2 linked regions of the Homo sapiens genome follow. The protein of the gene in region 2 interacts with the protein of the main gene of each other region in a biochemical or structural test. Each region holds a gene or a part of one and is shown on either strand. Other genes may lie near its edges.

Region 1 (7,746 bases), on a different chromosome or scaffold from region 2:
AAAAGGTTTTCTGTTGCCCCTGGCTTTGCCTGGAAAGGATAAGTTTAGTGTATTTGAAGATTGATGGCGTATGTTTTAAATTGAGGTAAAAATCGCAAACTATGTGAGCACTAAACAGGAAAAGGCTGCACAGGAATGAAAAGCCTCCATCTCGCTTCTGTCCTTTAACAAATGAGCATAATCTTCCACATTTAGCAAAAGTCTGCAAAAGTCACTGTAAATAACCAGGCCCACCAATTTGCCTTTCTCTCGCCTCCAAATGATGAAGCAACCCTTTTTATTTTGTTTTTGTAATCCTCACACAAAGCACCCAAGGCGACCAAGTCCTCCGGATTAGGGAAGTCTCTCTCCAGGTAGGAGGACACCTCCATTCTATACAACCTCCCAGCACTGTTCTCCCTCACTGCCTTATCCAAAGGAGCAGGGGCTGCTTTACTCGTGTCCCCGGCACAGTTAATTGAAGTTCTGCCTCTTTCCTGCTAAACTTTTTCCCCAGTCTGCCTTTGCCAGCCCCCTCGTCTGATTACATCTAGTAATTCTCCACTGAATGAACGTCATTTACAATAGTAGGGGAGCTCTGCGCTCGCTGCTGCTTCACGCTCCATTTGTCCTCTATTCTCCCTTTAAAGTACTCGTGTAATATTAATAGTCATGAATATCAATTATTATGAGGCGGTGTAGGCAAGCGGAGGGAGGAAGGGGCGGCCGAGCAGTCTGAGCCCAGCTTCGGGTGAAAGAGGACTGCATCTGGAGCCCCGAAGAACGGCAGAAGAAAAGAGGCCAAAAAGACAGCAAAGAGACAGATGAATAGTTCTGTCTGTGTGTGACAGGCATCGCCAATCTTGTTGGGGTGGGGGGCGGGTGTAATTTTTTTTTTTTTTTTTTGATGGCTTGTCCTGGAAACACATCAAGCTCAGCTCCTGTGTCCAGCTCGCTTCTCTGCTGGACTCCTTGATTTTTTTTTTAATCATTGTTTGATTTTGAGCAGTAACCAGGCTTTTTTTTCCAGATGTTAGTCCACACCTATTCATCCATGGTGAGTTTGGATTCACGTGTTACCAGAATTGCATGCTCCCTCCTCTCACTGTCTCTCTGTCTCTGCGTCTCTGTGTGTGTGTGTGTCTCACACTCTCTGTCTCTCTCTGTCTTCCTTTGAGCGCCTTTGGCTTGGTAATTTAGCACCATAATTGGACGAGGCTGCAGCTGCTTCTCTCTGCATTGTGTGTTCTCCGTCTGAGCTCCATGAGTCAGCTGGGAGGGGAGAGGCCGAAAAGAAAAACTTTTTATTTGCCATTGCTGTTTGGAAATTTAGGTGACTATTTCTGCAAAAAGAACCATGGGGAGTTTACCATGATGTTTCCAGAGAAGAGAGGGAGAAACAAAGTCCACCTCCCTCATATACACACCTCCCCCTTCTTCTTTCACTTAGTTCACACTCCAGATAGGACCAGGAATAAGTTGTCTGGGCTTTTATTTCCCCCCACCCCAACTTTAGTTCCTTCATTTTCACATCCTGAGTATAACAGCATTAGATATAGAAAAACAGTCTTAGAAATAACTCCTATGAACCACAACTCAACTTAATTCATCATTGGCTTAGGATATGATTTCGAATGAGATCCATTTCAATGAAACACTATTTAAGTTATTTAATTTCTCCTGGAGAGGGAGGAGTGACTGGGAACTCAGACCAGGTGGATTCCTTGGAGCTCTTGGAATGATCAGGTTGTGTGGAAAGCTCCTCCTAATCAGCCAGCTGCATTTCCAGCGAAGGCAGAAGTTGGTTTTTAATCAGGGGGAGCAGCACAGCAAATACTATGAAGTTTTATTTGTTGTGATTTGTACCTCTGGAAGAGTTAGAAAAAAGTAGTTAAAAACACCCAGAGGAGCAAACACCATATGTAAGACTCCTACAATTTTAATTAAGGCATTTAGAATCTCCCTCCATACACACTGTTCCTGTACCCCTGCCTTTTGCCTGCTTTGCACTCCCCAAAAAGCGGCTAAAATGTTATAGTTAAGTGGGTGATTCCTTTCCCATTTTCTCCCCAAGCCTGGGGTTTGAAATTGCTGAAATCATGTGGCCCTCTGAGTCAACTTGGGGGTCTAAGTTTCAGATCCTTGCTTCCCTTGTCCCGGGAAGAGCGTACAAAAGCCGGGCTTCTCCATTTGTCACTTGTATTTTTTTTCTTCCTCTCTGTACTCTCTGTCTCTCTCTGCCTCTATCTCTCTTTCTCTGTCTCCTTCTCTGGCTCTCTTCCCCTTCCTCTCTCCGCTCCCAGGACCGGCACGATGGTGTCCCGAGCCACAGCTCGCGGCTCTCCCAGCTGGGCTCGGTGTCCCAAGGACCCTACTCGAGCGCCCCGCCGCTGTCCCACACCCCGTCGTCGGACTTCCAGCCGCCCTACTTCCCACCCCCCTACCAGCCGCTCCCCTACCACCAGAGCCAGGACCCCTACTCCCACGTCAACGACCCCTACTCCCTGAACCCACTGCACCAGCCCCAGCAACATCCCTGGGGGCAACGGCAGCGGCAAGAAGTGGGTTCGGAAGCCGGCTCTCTCCTGCCCCAGCCTCGGGCCGCCTTGCCCCAGCTCTCGGGCCTTGACCCCCGGAGGGACTACCACTCGGTCCGCCGGCCGGACGTGCTGCTGCATTCGGCGCACCACGGCCTGGACGCGGGCATGGGTGACAGCCTCTCGCTGCACGGCCTCGGCCATCCCGGAATGGAAGACGTCCAGGTAACCACAAACAAACAAACAAACAAACAAAAAAGACCACGAATAAGGAATGCTTCTGGAGGGGGGGAGGTCAGGAGAGGGCAGCTCTGTCTCTTTTTGGGGAGTTTGTTCCCATGTTTAGAACAGGACTAGACAGTCATATAGAACTGTTTATGTGTGTCTGTATGTATGGCTCTATAGTGGCGATTTCCAGAGGTCTAATTATGATCATCCAAACCACGAGAAATTAAATCTTGAAGAAGAAAAATATGTATTTGCTTTGATACCTTAAGATTATTAGAATAAAGGCGAATGCTTTTGTCCTGCCTCAGCTACCATCTCCTGCATATTCTCTAGTGCTTTGTGGAAGCCAGCTTGGTACCCCTTCTTTACCAACACACACACCCCATAGTGGGGCTGTCCTGCTGACTTGGCAGGTGAAGACCTGGCTGCCTAGAGGCTAGAGCTTCAGAATGAAGTTCCAGGGGCCTCTGTATGCTCCAGAGGTTGCTGCTGAATTTGCAAAGATTTTGCTAAGCATGACAATGAGCTCTGATCATCTAAGCCAGGTCTTGCTTTGAATGTCTCATAAGCCACAGAGCTTTTTTCCAAGAGATAGTTGCAGTCCTCATCTGAGAAATAGAATATATGTGAAGGAGAAACTCAGAACGCCATAATTCAGGAGTCCATGATGGTAGATACCATTTTGGAAATTCTTTTCACTTTTTGGTTCATTAAGTGACTGTAGTGTAATATTCTCCACCTCCCTCTCCTGGCCTCCGCCTATATTAACACTCTTCTCTCCCCACTGCCATCATCCCAGTTGAGAGGCATCACGTGTTTATTTCTTAAAACAAAAGGCTCAAAACACTCCCCCTACCCACCCACTATCCCATCTGCAGTCTACACAATGGAGCCTGATTTGGTTGAGAATACTTGGTTAAACTAAACAAAGAAACATCAAAGAAATGATTCCTAAAAACTGTTTGGGTGATTCTGAGCAGGTCTGCTTTTTCACCCTAAGTTAAATAGTTGGCAGAAAAGATAAATATAGTTTACAGGTATGTAATTGACACTTCAGTTTCATTGGCATAGTTGTATTTATTATGCATCCTTTGACATACCTCTGAAGCAAAGGAAAATAAAATGGGAAAGAGAAGAGGGTGCAAGAGTCATTCTTCTGTACCTTGCTGAAAAAAAATAGTTTTAAACAGTTAAAATGTGGTGACAGCATCAAATGCTGTCTGTGTGTGGTCTATGATTGTTTATTGTTTTAAAAGAAATTCAGTTATTTATTTTTTTAAAAAAGACGGAATTACCTGATTTGTGCCTGGATTTACTGATAGTAATAAGAGTGATGATGGTTTTGTTGATTTAACTGAGCTTGACTGTTCCTGGCTAGAGATATTGCTCATTTCTGAATATCATATGAAAAAGGAAGTATTTAATAGTTTTTTTTTTAATGCATTGGGGTAATATGTGTCTCGAGGGGAAAAGTTTTTAAATTAACCTTTCTGAGTATGGTTCAAAGTGCTGGATAATGAAAGTGGATCAACTCATCACCATTACTGTTGATGATGCTAATGCCGGCCCTGTTACCACCACCCTACAGGCCAAGTGACTCTAGCGAAGGAACTCAGAAATTTTTCCCCCAAAAGAAGGAGCAGTTTTCTTTAGTTAAATGTTTTTAAAGAAATAATTGAGAGAGGTCTTTTTGTGTTTGGTGAAATTCAAAGTCTGAGAGAAAAACAGGGCCAGATCAGTGCACATTTGGGAGAATAGTCTTGTCAAAGCGTCGGAAAGGATTTAGTGTTTATGTGAACGGAGCACCTCGGGGCCAAGTTGTTGCTGTCGGGAATACAGACCACAGAGGTAGAGAGCTGAAAGGAGAAAAGCAGCAGGCAGCACACCGGAGCCACTTGCAGGCTCTCCACTCACCCAACCCCCACCCTGTTCCTCCCCTGCTTTATCTCATTTCGTCACCTGCCGGGAGGCCCACGGGACCTTCTTGGGACGACCCCTATAGTGCAAGGGACACACCCTGCTCCTGTCCCTAGAGGGAAACAGCAAAGACAGGGACGGTCTCTGCCTCCGCGGTGATGACAGACCTCCCAAGGCCAGGGTGAAGTTGACTGATGCAGGGCAGGTGACAAAGACCAGGGGTTATGTTTCCAGGACCACAGCCTCGAATCCGAAGGCTTCCAATCATCTGCTCAACACAGAAGGATCCACTTCCGAGTTAGGAAGCTGGGGTGCGGGGGCTAAAGTTACACAAGCAGGTTGGGATTTCAACGCTCTCCCTACAGCTATCGAATGGGTGGCCTGCACTGGTCCAGTCTTTAAAAGGGCCTGCACTGGTCCAGTCTTTAAAAGGACCAGAGAGTGCCTAGGCCTGGACCTTAAAGTCACTTGTTCCGATCTCAAGGACCTCGTGTGTGTTCCAGATCCCCTTGAGCCAGGGAGCTGGCAGACACTGAGGGTGCTGCCCTGCCTATGGGTCGAGGGTTTTGTTGTGTGACCCAGATGCACCACACTCAGGGCCACAGCCCCCACCATGAGAGAAGAGAAAGAGGAGAGCTAATTCACCAAATGCTTCTAATATTTTTTTAAATGAAACTATAAAACCCTGTCAATTTCTATTTCAATTTACTCACAGGGGCTATTAAACTAGCAAATCGCTGTTTGGGTTCTGGGTATGCTACATTTCACCCATTGTGCATGAGCGCGCGCGCGCGCGCGCGCGTGTGTGTGTGTGTCTAGTTGGGGAGGGGGCTACAAGTGTTAAAAACTCAGGAAAACACCTACAGAGAGAGAGACAGAGGGAGTGAAAGGACACCTAGTTTGGGATTTGTTTAGTTGTCATGTACACCTCTTTTCTTCTTCCCACCTTTGCTCTCTTACCTCCCATCACCTCTACCACCCATGAATATAAACATATAAGGATGTTAAGCCAACTCCCCCCAAACACATACACACACTCAAACACACCCGAGTGTCTTAAAGCAACCCCTGGTATCACTTTTAACTAAAGAAGTCTAGTAATTACGAGTCTGAGTTGTTTTTCTGCGCTTCCGCATGCAGTCCTAATTAAATCTTTACGATCCTCCCTGTGACGATTAAGCGCCAGCATGCTGCGTGAATATCCTGTACAAAAACCCAGCAGGCGGCCGTAATTAGATAGAAAATCAGACAAGAGCCTTCTCATTAACTACCACAACTACCCCACGTCGCTGATGAGGCGTTTATACATATTTACGTACAAGAGTGAGGGTAAGGTGTGAGGGCTCCCGGGTCCAGGCCAGTGTAAGTCAGGGTCTGGCTGCCCAAGGCACAGGAGAATATTTCTGTCCTGCCTGGACACATTGTCACTGTATACACATGATCATAGAAAGGTGTGAATCGTGTGTGTTTGTGTGTGGCAGGGTCCCCTGAGGAGTTATGAACAAGTTACATGAAATATTTTTAAAACACCTTTTTACTATTTCCTAAGATGTGCATGGCATGTTGCAGCAAGGATAACAATTCCTATGGAGAATAACAATTTTGCTCACTTTTCTGAGAACAAAAGAGTGACTATTAAAAATGAAAAGAAACAAATTAACATGCCCCCTGTACGATTAGATCATCTCATTTCTAAAGTTTTGCTTGTTTGGGGTAGACAGTCTTTTTCTTGTGATGAACTCACACTGTGAGGATGCAGCATGAGTCGGTGTGAGTGCTGTGAAAACAGCTCCTCACTCTCAAGCCCTTTGCTTTTTACTTCTCTATAAAGTGGGTAACAATTTGGTCCCAACTTAGGTTTTGAAGGGTCAAGAAAGTAGTTGTAGATTTTAGAAAGACCTAGCATTTATTTTCTTGGTAGGGAGAGAAAGGGAATCTACTGCTTTTGGACGCCCTGGGATGCACAGCCAGAACTGTTCATGTGTATTCTGACAGTAAGAAACTTGCTCCAACAGCTATTTCCTCTCAGAAGTGCTACCAGTGCTCAGAGTTGAAACTTTCCTTCTCTGGAATGAAACTGTGGCACAGAAGATGAACATTCCTTGCGATTACCTAGGTGCTGACTGGGAGGATCTAGACCTTTGTGTGTGTCTGCTTGTCTGTAGTTACTGCCTTCCTAACAGGTGTGCTCCTTGCTGGGAAGCAGCATCAGCAGGACTGGGAGGGAGGGTAAATTGTGAAGGTTCCTCCAAGAGACTGTCATTGTGCAGCAAGAAGCTCATAGTTTACAGGAACGTGTATGGGCTGTAATGGGTGTGCAGTCCTAGAGGCTTGCAAACATGTTCCTATGTGTTGCTGTTTGCATTCCATTCCAAATTGCTCAGACTTTAATTAAAATCCCATAATGTAAACTATTATGTATTTGTAAAATGGCTCTGGGGTTAAGATGCACTGGGATAGAATGGAAAACACAAATTGCTCTTACTAATATTGGTGAAAATCTGTCAGCTGTTGCCAAATTTTTACAATTCATAAGAGCAAATAATATAAAGGTTTATCTGTCTAATATCTATGTTTTATATAATAACTAAACCAATGTTGCATCCCAGATGTCTCTCAAAGTTTTCTTTCTCCACTTCTTCCATTGGAAAAATTTATAATTTGAGTAAATTTCATTTCTATGTCTATTTGGAGGTAATAATAATAATAAAACAGCCCTTTGTGAATTAATATAAATGGAAATAACAGAAACTCCAGTTTGGAATAACATGATTTATGTGTGCAATTCTTTAATATCCTGTCAATTTGAATAGTGATGTTTTTATATTCACAGTCAGTTGAAGATGCCAATAACAGCGGCATGAATCTATTGGACCAGTCTGTCATTAAAAAAGGTATGGATAATTCCCCCCAAAAAGTAAGCAAAGTTCTCTCATGCATTAACGTCTTTATGATGAATTTTCACTTTGGGGGAATTCATTATTTGACAAGACATAAATGTTTGTTCACAATTATAGGACAATGGCTGTCAGATTAGGGGAAAGGGCATGTTGGGAAGATGGAAGTTGGGCAAGGGAGAATGAAA
Region 2 (7,828 bases):
TTCTCAGCCTCACTTTAGTCTCTTCAACAGAGTGGTTTTGCTCCTACTCAATTTCTCTGCTCCCTTCCCTGCCATCTTTCAACACCCCTAGTGGGTTCAATCTGACCACAATTTAGGCAGAAGCTGTTCTCATTCTCCCCAGAGATAGTCCTGTTGTCTCCTCTCTGCTCAAGGACACTGGGTAATGCACCTAGGAGGGCCTGGCCCATGACCCCGGAAAATTTGTCTTTCCCTGCCTCATCTGTAAAATGGCAAAAATTACCTCCTTCGCAGGTGAGGTGCCACCCTTGACATCAAGTGCAGGCCTCGACGTTGTTGGCATTTCAGAGCCTTGGCAGAAGTTGGATAAATTGGCGGGAAGTGATGCTGCCAGCTGGAGCTGTTGTGCTGCAAGTGAGGAAGAAGCAGTGGTAAGGGCAAAAGGCTTCACTGACCAACAAAGCACTAGCAAAGCCCAAAGCAGGGCAATGCCACGCAGCTATGAGGCAAGGATGGTGACTGAGTTAGAATCAAGACCAGAGATCACCCGAGCACAGGGAGGAGATCAAGCTGGAACTTTTGCCTGAGGCAGGAAAGGTGCTTGATTCGGCCAGGTACTGCCCAGGCAGCCACCTACCCATATCACCAAGATGGGACATACTGCTTCCTCATGCAAGTGACTTCACAGTCCCAAGGTGTATGTGTGGGGGTGAGGGTGGCACTGTTCCTGGTTCAGAGGACAGGAATGTCCCTGAGTAAGCAACATATTGTCTCAATGGGCTACTAGCATCCAGGCTGGAGAGTTGGGGCCTCCACTGGGACTGGGAGAATGTGAGAAGAAGTCAGGGCAAGGAAGACCTAGAAAGCTAGAGGCTGCAGCACAGGGAAATAACAAGTCTCTAGCGCAAATGTCATGGAGCTCCAAAGCATGACCTTGGGCATGCCTGTGAGAAGCCAGGCTGATTAGGGTGGTCTGGGGGCTCTGAGGCAGCTGGAGCCAGAGAAGCTAGGAATGTGTCACTTTCCTCCATGTCTCAAGCCCCCTCCAAGACAGCCCCAGCATTGGGCTTTCCTAGGATGCCTACCCCAGAAACCTGAGTCCAGCCATTCCCATCTATAGTGACAAGTGAGGCACAGAGATTCAATGCCTTTTTAGTCAGGTAGCAGCGGTTCTGGGAGCAGAATCTAGCACCCCTATGGCCACATGCCTCACCTGACCACTGGCTAAGTCATCATACCTAGCTGGATTCAAAAGGCTTCCAAAGAAGTGATTTCCTGGCTCAAGTGCCAAAGGATAAGGGAATGAAGGCAAAAGAATACCTCCAAACCAGAAAATAAACAAACCTCTGAAAATCTCAACTTATTTTCCTGGAGGCCTGTTTACAAAGAAGAAAAAAATGTCCCATAGCTAGGCACAGTAGCACCCTCCTGTAGTCTCAGCTACTCAGGAAGCTGAGGTGGGAGGATCACCTGAGCCCTGGAGTTTGATACCAGGCTGGGCAACATAGCGGGACCCTATCTCTTTAAAAAAAAAAAGCCCCATATATTCTAGCTTTCATGATCAATTAGAGATGTAGAATTTCATATTTATAAATACCTCTTGGTCCAAAGAATCTTGAGGACCTTAAAAAGAGTCTCTAATCTTTCCAAGGAGGCTAGAATTCTCCGTGACACTCTCCACTCCGCAGCGGTCATTAAGAATCTGCTCAGACACTTCTAGAAAGTGGCCACTTACTACCTCTCTGTATCATCTTTGCATTGCTTACTTGGGTGGATGGGGGTAGGGGAGGGAAAAAATAGAGAAAGGGGTAAACATTTTTTTAAAAACATGAGGAAAAAATATCAGCTGTTGGGTCCCGCATCATTGCTTGATTGAAGCCCTGCTCCTTCTCTGAGGCAACCGTAGAAAAATATTTCAAAAGCAAGTGATCACCAGACAAGAAGTCTAACACATGTCGTCTTCAAGAGCCCTAGCACAATCAGTATCAGACAATTTTCCTGTCCTAAGAAAAATGTCTGGGGGCCCTGTCCATCTTTTCCTGTTCCTATCCAGCCTTCCCTCTCCTTTTTGCCGCTTGGTACCCGAATGTACAAAACGAAGAAAAAACAACAGGAGCAGCAGCAACAACAGCAAAACCAAAAGAGAAACATTAGAAAAATCAAAAGAGAGAACGAGCAAAAAAACTCTCTCTATTCTGATATCAGTTCGTGGGGGAAGACCATTTTACCGCGCCTCCCTCTTCAATCTGGGAGCTCCCCCAGAAGAGGCCCTGTGTCCATTCAGATCTTCTGCCTTCCATTACTGACCCACCACCCACCCTGACCCCAGCCTGGGTCTGCGCTCAATAGGCGCTCAGTAAGTGTTGTTGAATGCGTCTGAAGAAGCAATCGCATTTCCATCGGCATCCCTGGCTCTGCTTCCCCGGCTTTCTGCCCTCCTCCACCACCCTCTAGCCCGTTCGTGGGCAAAACTTGGCAACGCGGAAACGTCCCAGCCCGCTCTCCAAGCCGCGAGCTGACCACTGCGAAACGGCTGCGACAGGCGGCTGGGAAACCTAGAGCAACAAGTGCCTTCTCGCCGGCTGATGCCTGGCGGCCCCCCGGCCACCAGTTCCCAGTCCCGCTGCCCGCTCTTCGCTTCAGGCCTTCCCTTGGGCGAGCAGCCCCCTCCCGCCTAGACAGGGGTGGGAAGGGGAGAGGGAAAAGAGAAGGGAGAGGCAGGTGGGGGCCTCATCTTTAACCTGTTGGGGGACCAAAAGTTAAAATGGCACCAACCGGATGGTTCCATCTCGATTGCTATTTTCTCACTCAGAAGGAGAAATTTAAAAATCCAAACAGCACTGCGGCTTGGCTTGGACGCGCTCTAACCAGACCAGTCAGTTTCGCCACCTGAAAACTAAAGGCCCGTTGTTTGCGGACAGCTCGGCTGCCCTCCTCGCCGCATCCCAGATGGAGCCGCGGAACCGGGGGCGGCCGGGAGCATCCCTTGCACGGCGGGCGCGTGCACCCAGGCCACCGGGGCCCTGAGCGTCCGTTCCCGCAAGTGCTGTATCAGGAACTGATCTTAGAGACAGGATGGACAGGCAGGAAGGGGCACGGGGTGTCGGCCTCCGCGGCGAGTCCGCACTCCGGCGCCGGCTGCTGCCACTCTCGCGCCTGATCAACACTTACTGAGCGCCCGCTGAGCATCCGACGCGGCAGCAGGCTGAGCCTACCCCCTAGCCAAGCCGCCTGCGGTCAGTGCTAAAACCCCGCTAGGAGAAGAGTGAGAGAGGCTCGGAGAGGTGCGGTAACTTGCCCAAGGTCACAGCGCTAGAAAGTGGCGGAGCCGGGATTCGCAGCCAGGTCTCTCTGACTCCAAGTCCGGTGCTCTGCGAAGCAGGGACTCGGCGCGCGGCTCGCCAGCCCGCGTTTATAGGGAGAGGGGTGTGCGCGTGGGTGTGTGTGTGTGGGCGTGTGTCGGGGGAGGGGAGGGCTGAGGTCGACTGGGCAGTAGAGGCAAGTTGCCCAAATTCGCTAACTTCCATCCCGCAATTCCGCTGAACTCGGCCCGAAAAGCCCCCTCTTGCCTCAATTCCCCGAAGTAAATCTGAGCTTTGTGCAGCTCCGGAGCCAGAGCGTCCAGATGCGGTCCGGGAGATTAGCAAAGTCGGTGGAAGCCAAGCTGGAGAAAGCGCGGGCGCAGGGAGAAAAGGTGCTGCCGTCTCCCCGGGAGAAGCGGGCACCCGGCCCCGCTGGCCGGCAGGGGGGCGCGCTGGCAAGCGAACCCGAGCGCTGGCGGGCGGGCGGGCGGGCGGCCCCTCGCCCCCAGCAGAGCAGCTTTCCAACAGAAAGCAAGTCTCCCCAGAACCCTCCGGCCCGCCTGGCGGCCGCCCACTCCCCATACCCGCTCCACGGGAGTCCTCGGCCCCGCCGCCCAGCCCGGCGCCCAGCCCGGCGGCCCGGCTTACCTCTGAGAAGCCGCCTGCCCTGGAGAGAGGGAAGCGCGGAGCTCGGTGAGCCGCAAGAGAGGCGGCGGAGCCCCCAGCCCCTGGCACGCACGCCGCCGCCACCGCTACCGCGAACCGGTCGCGCTCAGCGCCCGCGGCCGCGCCGTTGGCCACCCGACCCCGGGGCGCCTGGGAAAAGCCCGCACCGCGCCGCGCCGCCGCTGCACCGCACAGTGCCGCGCCAAGCAGCCCCTGACCGAGCTGGTGCCCGCCCGCCCGCCCGCAGCTTCGGCGCCGGACTCCGGGGCGGTGGCGGTGGCGGCCACCGCGCTCCCTTCCCGGCGCTGGGGACCCGGCTCTCAAGCCCCCATTGCCGCCCGGAGAGCCCTGACGCACACGCACACGGCAGCAGACTGGCCTCGGCTAGGAATCCCAGGAAGGACAGACCCTTTTTTTCCCTTTTTTTTTCTCCCCTCAATTTCCACGTCTTTATAACCGGCTTAGGGCATTATTAGCACATGTCCTGGCTCGTGGGCGAGTTGGTGGCAAAATCTGAACTGGATACTCACGGAGGGCCCGCGCGGGTGCTGTGCCGTCCGCTGCTCTCTTCCTCCTCACCGAGAACTGCCCCTCGCCGGCGGACTACAAGAGGGCAGCCGGGCAGAGCGAGCTTCCTCTCGGCAGCTCAGCGGTGCCCCTTCTGCAGCTTTGCCGCCGGGCACATTTTTATAGCAGCGGCTGGCGTCTGTGGCCCTTTAAAGGCGCTCGAGCTGGTGCAGTCACCGCGGATCGTGTGAAAGCAAAGGGCCGGCTGGGGAACGGAGTCCACGCGGCCACGCGAGTCCGGCAGCCCTGTGGACCGGCCAAGGCTCCCGGGGTGGGGCTGGCGAGTCCGGGCTATGGGCAGCCCTCGCCCGGAGCCCTGGCCAGTGCCCGGCTTCTAAAGCTGTCGGGGGCCAGGGCCCGGGACACCGGCTCTCCCCACCGCCCTGCGTGGACTTGCCCAATAAATTCCACTTAGTAATTTCACTGAGGCAAAGGAGAGCCGTTAGTGTCTGTTTTCTGACCTAAATCTAGTCGGGGGCCAAAACGGGCTTCAGGGGTTTTGGGAGAGAGCTGTGGGCTCAAGGAGTGACCTGGAAGAGCGGGGCGCACACGAGACGGGGGAATGGTCATTAGTTTTCTGCAGGGCTGTCTTGGAGCCTGTCTGCCTTTTGGGGGGGCTGTACTATCTCATTCGTTGAAGAGCTGAGGCTGGGGGCTCCTTTTCCTCTTAAAGTCGCCAGATTCTGGGCAGAGTCGCATGGGGGGCCTATATGGCAGCGGTGGCTCTTCTAGAAGTTCTGAGCTGGGGTTGGGTTCGAGGGTTTCTGTTCTGTGGTCATCCAGGGCAGGAGGCTGGCAGGATGCGACCCGGAGAAATGCTACTCTCCCGGACCGTGGGGCCAGGTACAGCTCACTAGGCTCGCCGAAAAGCCAACAGTAGGCAACGGGGTACGAAGAGCTTGCCCCAGGGTTCGCGGAGATTCCTCCTGCCTTCCCACGATGTCAGGTTGTTTTATTGTAACTACATAATCATTCCCGTCTAGCAAGAATAACGTTTTGCATTTGGAGTTCGTCTTTCTTAGGTAGAGATGTTGTCTTACAAATCCTTACTGGAAAGAGGTCTGGGTCTTCTCCTTCACCTCAATTCGGATTCTTTGTGGCCAAGAAATTCCCACCTTACCACTTACAGGGAGGCCATCGGGATTACCCCTCTGTCACCCCCCCACCCCGCCCCGGCCCCGCCGCTCTTTTTTTGCTGCCTTTCAGCAACAGCGACTCAGTTTACACTGTTTATAAAACATACTCTTTAAGAAAAGGTCCTGATGTTAAAAAAGGGGGGGAGGGAATGTCACGAAGTCATTTTCACTATGTATGTGTTCTGTCTTCTTAATTGGATTTGAAGACCTGAAGTTCTCTTTTTCTTTTCTTTTTCTTTTTTTAGTAGCCCCAAGTGCCCTGCATTTGCTCTTCTAACAAAGTTCTGTTTGTTGACGGACTGACCGGCTTACCGACACAAAGATGGGAAGCAAATGGAGAGACGGATCAAGGCCCTTCCTCGGCATCTGGAGGAAGCTTGGGCGAGTGTCTTGGTCGCCAGGTAAACCCATTCTCCAGCCCTCAAGGCTGCCTTGCACAGCTCCAGTCTTTTCACTTACCCTGTCCCAACACAAACCCCGGTAGCATCCACACCCCACACATCTTCGCTGCACTTTCTCACTTTGCTTGCCAGATTGTGGGCCCTGCCTAGTCTCCCTCTGATAAAAGGCGGGATCTGTCGGCACCCTAAAGCCTTACTGCAAACCGCGTGTGAAATACACTCTCAAGTTCTCTTGGTGTTTGCCTGGGATGAAAAAAAATGTTTCTGCGAAAACTAAGTGGTGGAGAATGAGCGACTCTAGGCTTTCGAATTGCATGTTACTAATTTGAACCCCTGACCCACCCTCCCCGTCAGCCCCGGCTTGGCTCGGGAGCAGGTCTGGCAACAGCGGCAGCTTCTCCGCTGCAGGCTCCGGATCCGGGAGGTGTGGATCCGCCCTCCATCTATTGGATGGCTCCCAGGCCAATTGTTAGAAAGAGGCATATGTTCATCTCGGCTTCTGGAGTGTCTCCGGAGCAGTTGCTCAACAGCCAGCCCCCTCCCCCATCCGGACCATTGAAGGGCAGAAAAAGGAGCGCCCTCCACCACATTTCTCTGTGCCCACATGCCAGAAAGGGTCTCCCCCCTGGTGACTTCCTGTCATCTCCACTGCTTACCTCCTGGGGAGCAGGAACGAGAGGGGCTTCAAGCACTCAGCTTTGAAGCACAAAAGCCACCCCTTTCCTTTTTGGGGAGATGGGAGAGGAGGTTAGTTGCAGAGGCTGAGAGGGAGCAAAGGAGACATTTGCATTTCTCGGCAAAAATGCTCTGATCACTGACTTCCCCGTTGGCTCCAGCAGAGCTCAGAGCTCTCCGCTGAACTCTTATCTCCAACTTGGCAACTAGACCGCGAGCTTGCGAAGCAAGGAGAGGACAGGGATGGTCACCTACCGAGAACCTCTGTGCTCCAGCGCTGGGCCTGGCATGTTCCCCATCCATCATCTCATTTAATTCCCAGGACAGCCCTTTGAGGTAGGGTTTACCAAAGGTGAATGAAACAGAGCCTCGGGAAATTGCCCAAGTTCACATAGCCACGTGGCTGAGTGTTTGAATCTGGATCAGGCTGTCTGCAAAGTTTTTACCCTCAGCCCTAATCCCCGCTGCCTAGGAGGGTAAGGAGGCTGTCTAGAGTGCAGGTTCAGGGGTCAGTAGGCCTGGGTTTAAATTCCTACTTTGCCATTTGTTAGCGGTGAAGTCTTAGGCCAATGGCTTCATGCTTTGGTCTTCAATTTTCCCATCTGTTAAATGGGGATAACAATGGTACCTAATCTGTGGGGGTTGCTTAGCCTGATTGGTGCCCGCAGTGTAGTAAATGGCCAATAAATGCTGTTATCGTACTGGACCTTCTGATTATTTTCCTTTTGCCTCCCGTCCCTGCCTCAGCTCACACACTTCAGATTCAGTAATACTTGCTGAATGATTAATTTTAAAACCAGACTGAGAGGGGATGAAGGAGGTCTATAAACTCAGGGAGGAGAGAGAGAGAGAAAAATGCAGATTTCTTCTTAAAATCCCACCCTCCAGAACCAAGGACTGCCTGAGCCATATGACAGGAGTAAATTTGGGACCAAAAAAAGGTGACCACTTTTTACAGGTCAGCCTATAAACTTACAGAGTGGTCTCCAGAAACATATACTCAATACGTGTGTAGAAAAAACTTTAAAAGCACAAGTTTTTATTCAAGAATATTTACAGCAGAATTGTTGATAATAGTGGAAAATGAAAAGGAACCTAAATG

Evidence for each region.
Region 1: the proteins of CITED1 (region 2) and TFAP2B form a complex in vitro, tested with the Homo sapiens proteins (one study listed by BioGRID).

The regions. Positions count from the first base shown.
Region 1 is NC_000006.12:50,821,125-50,828,870, forward strand, and holds part of TFAP2B (transcription factor AP-2-beta), read left to right. Parts: intron 1-307; coding exon of another isoform or gene 308-353; intron 354-1,009; coding exon of another isoform or gene 1,010-1,036; intron 1,037-2,282; coding exon 2,283-2,741; intron 2,742-7,494; coding exon 7,495-7,555; intron 7,556-7,746.
Region 2 is NC_000023.11:72,302,548-72,310,375, forward strand, and holds the start of CITED1 (cbp/p300-interacting transactivator 1), read right to left. Parts: upstream 3,368-7,828; 5' UTR 3,278-3,367; intron 2,876-3,277; exon of another isoform or gene 2,768-2,875; coding exon of another isoform or gene 2,755-2,767; intron 388-2,754; coding exon of another isoform or gene 323-387; coding exon 263-322; intron 1-262. UniProt on the Homo sapiens protein: Transcriptional coactivator of the p300/CBP-mediated transcription complex. Enhances SMAD-mediated transcription by strengthening the functional link between the DNA-binding SMAD transcription factors and the p300/CBP transcription coactivator complex.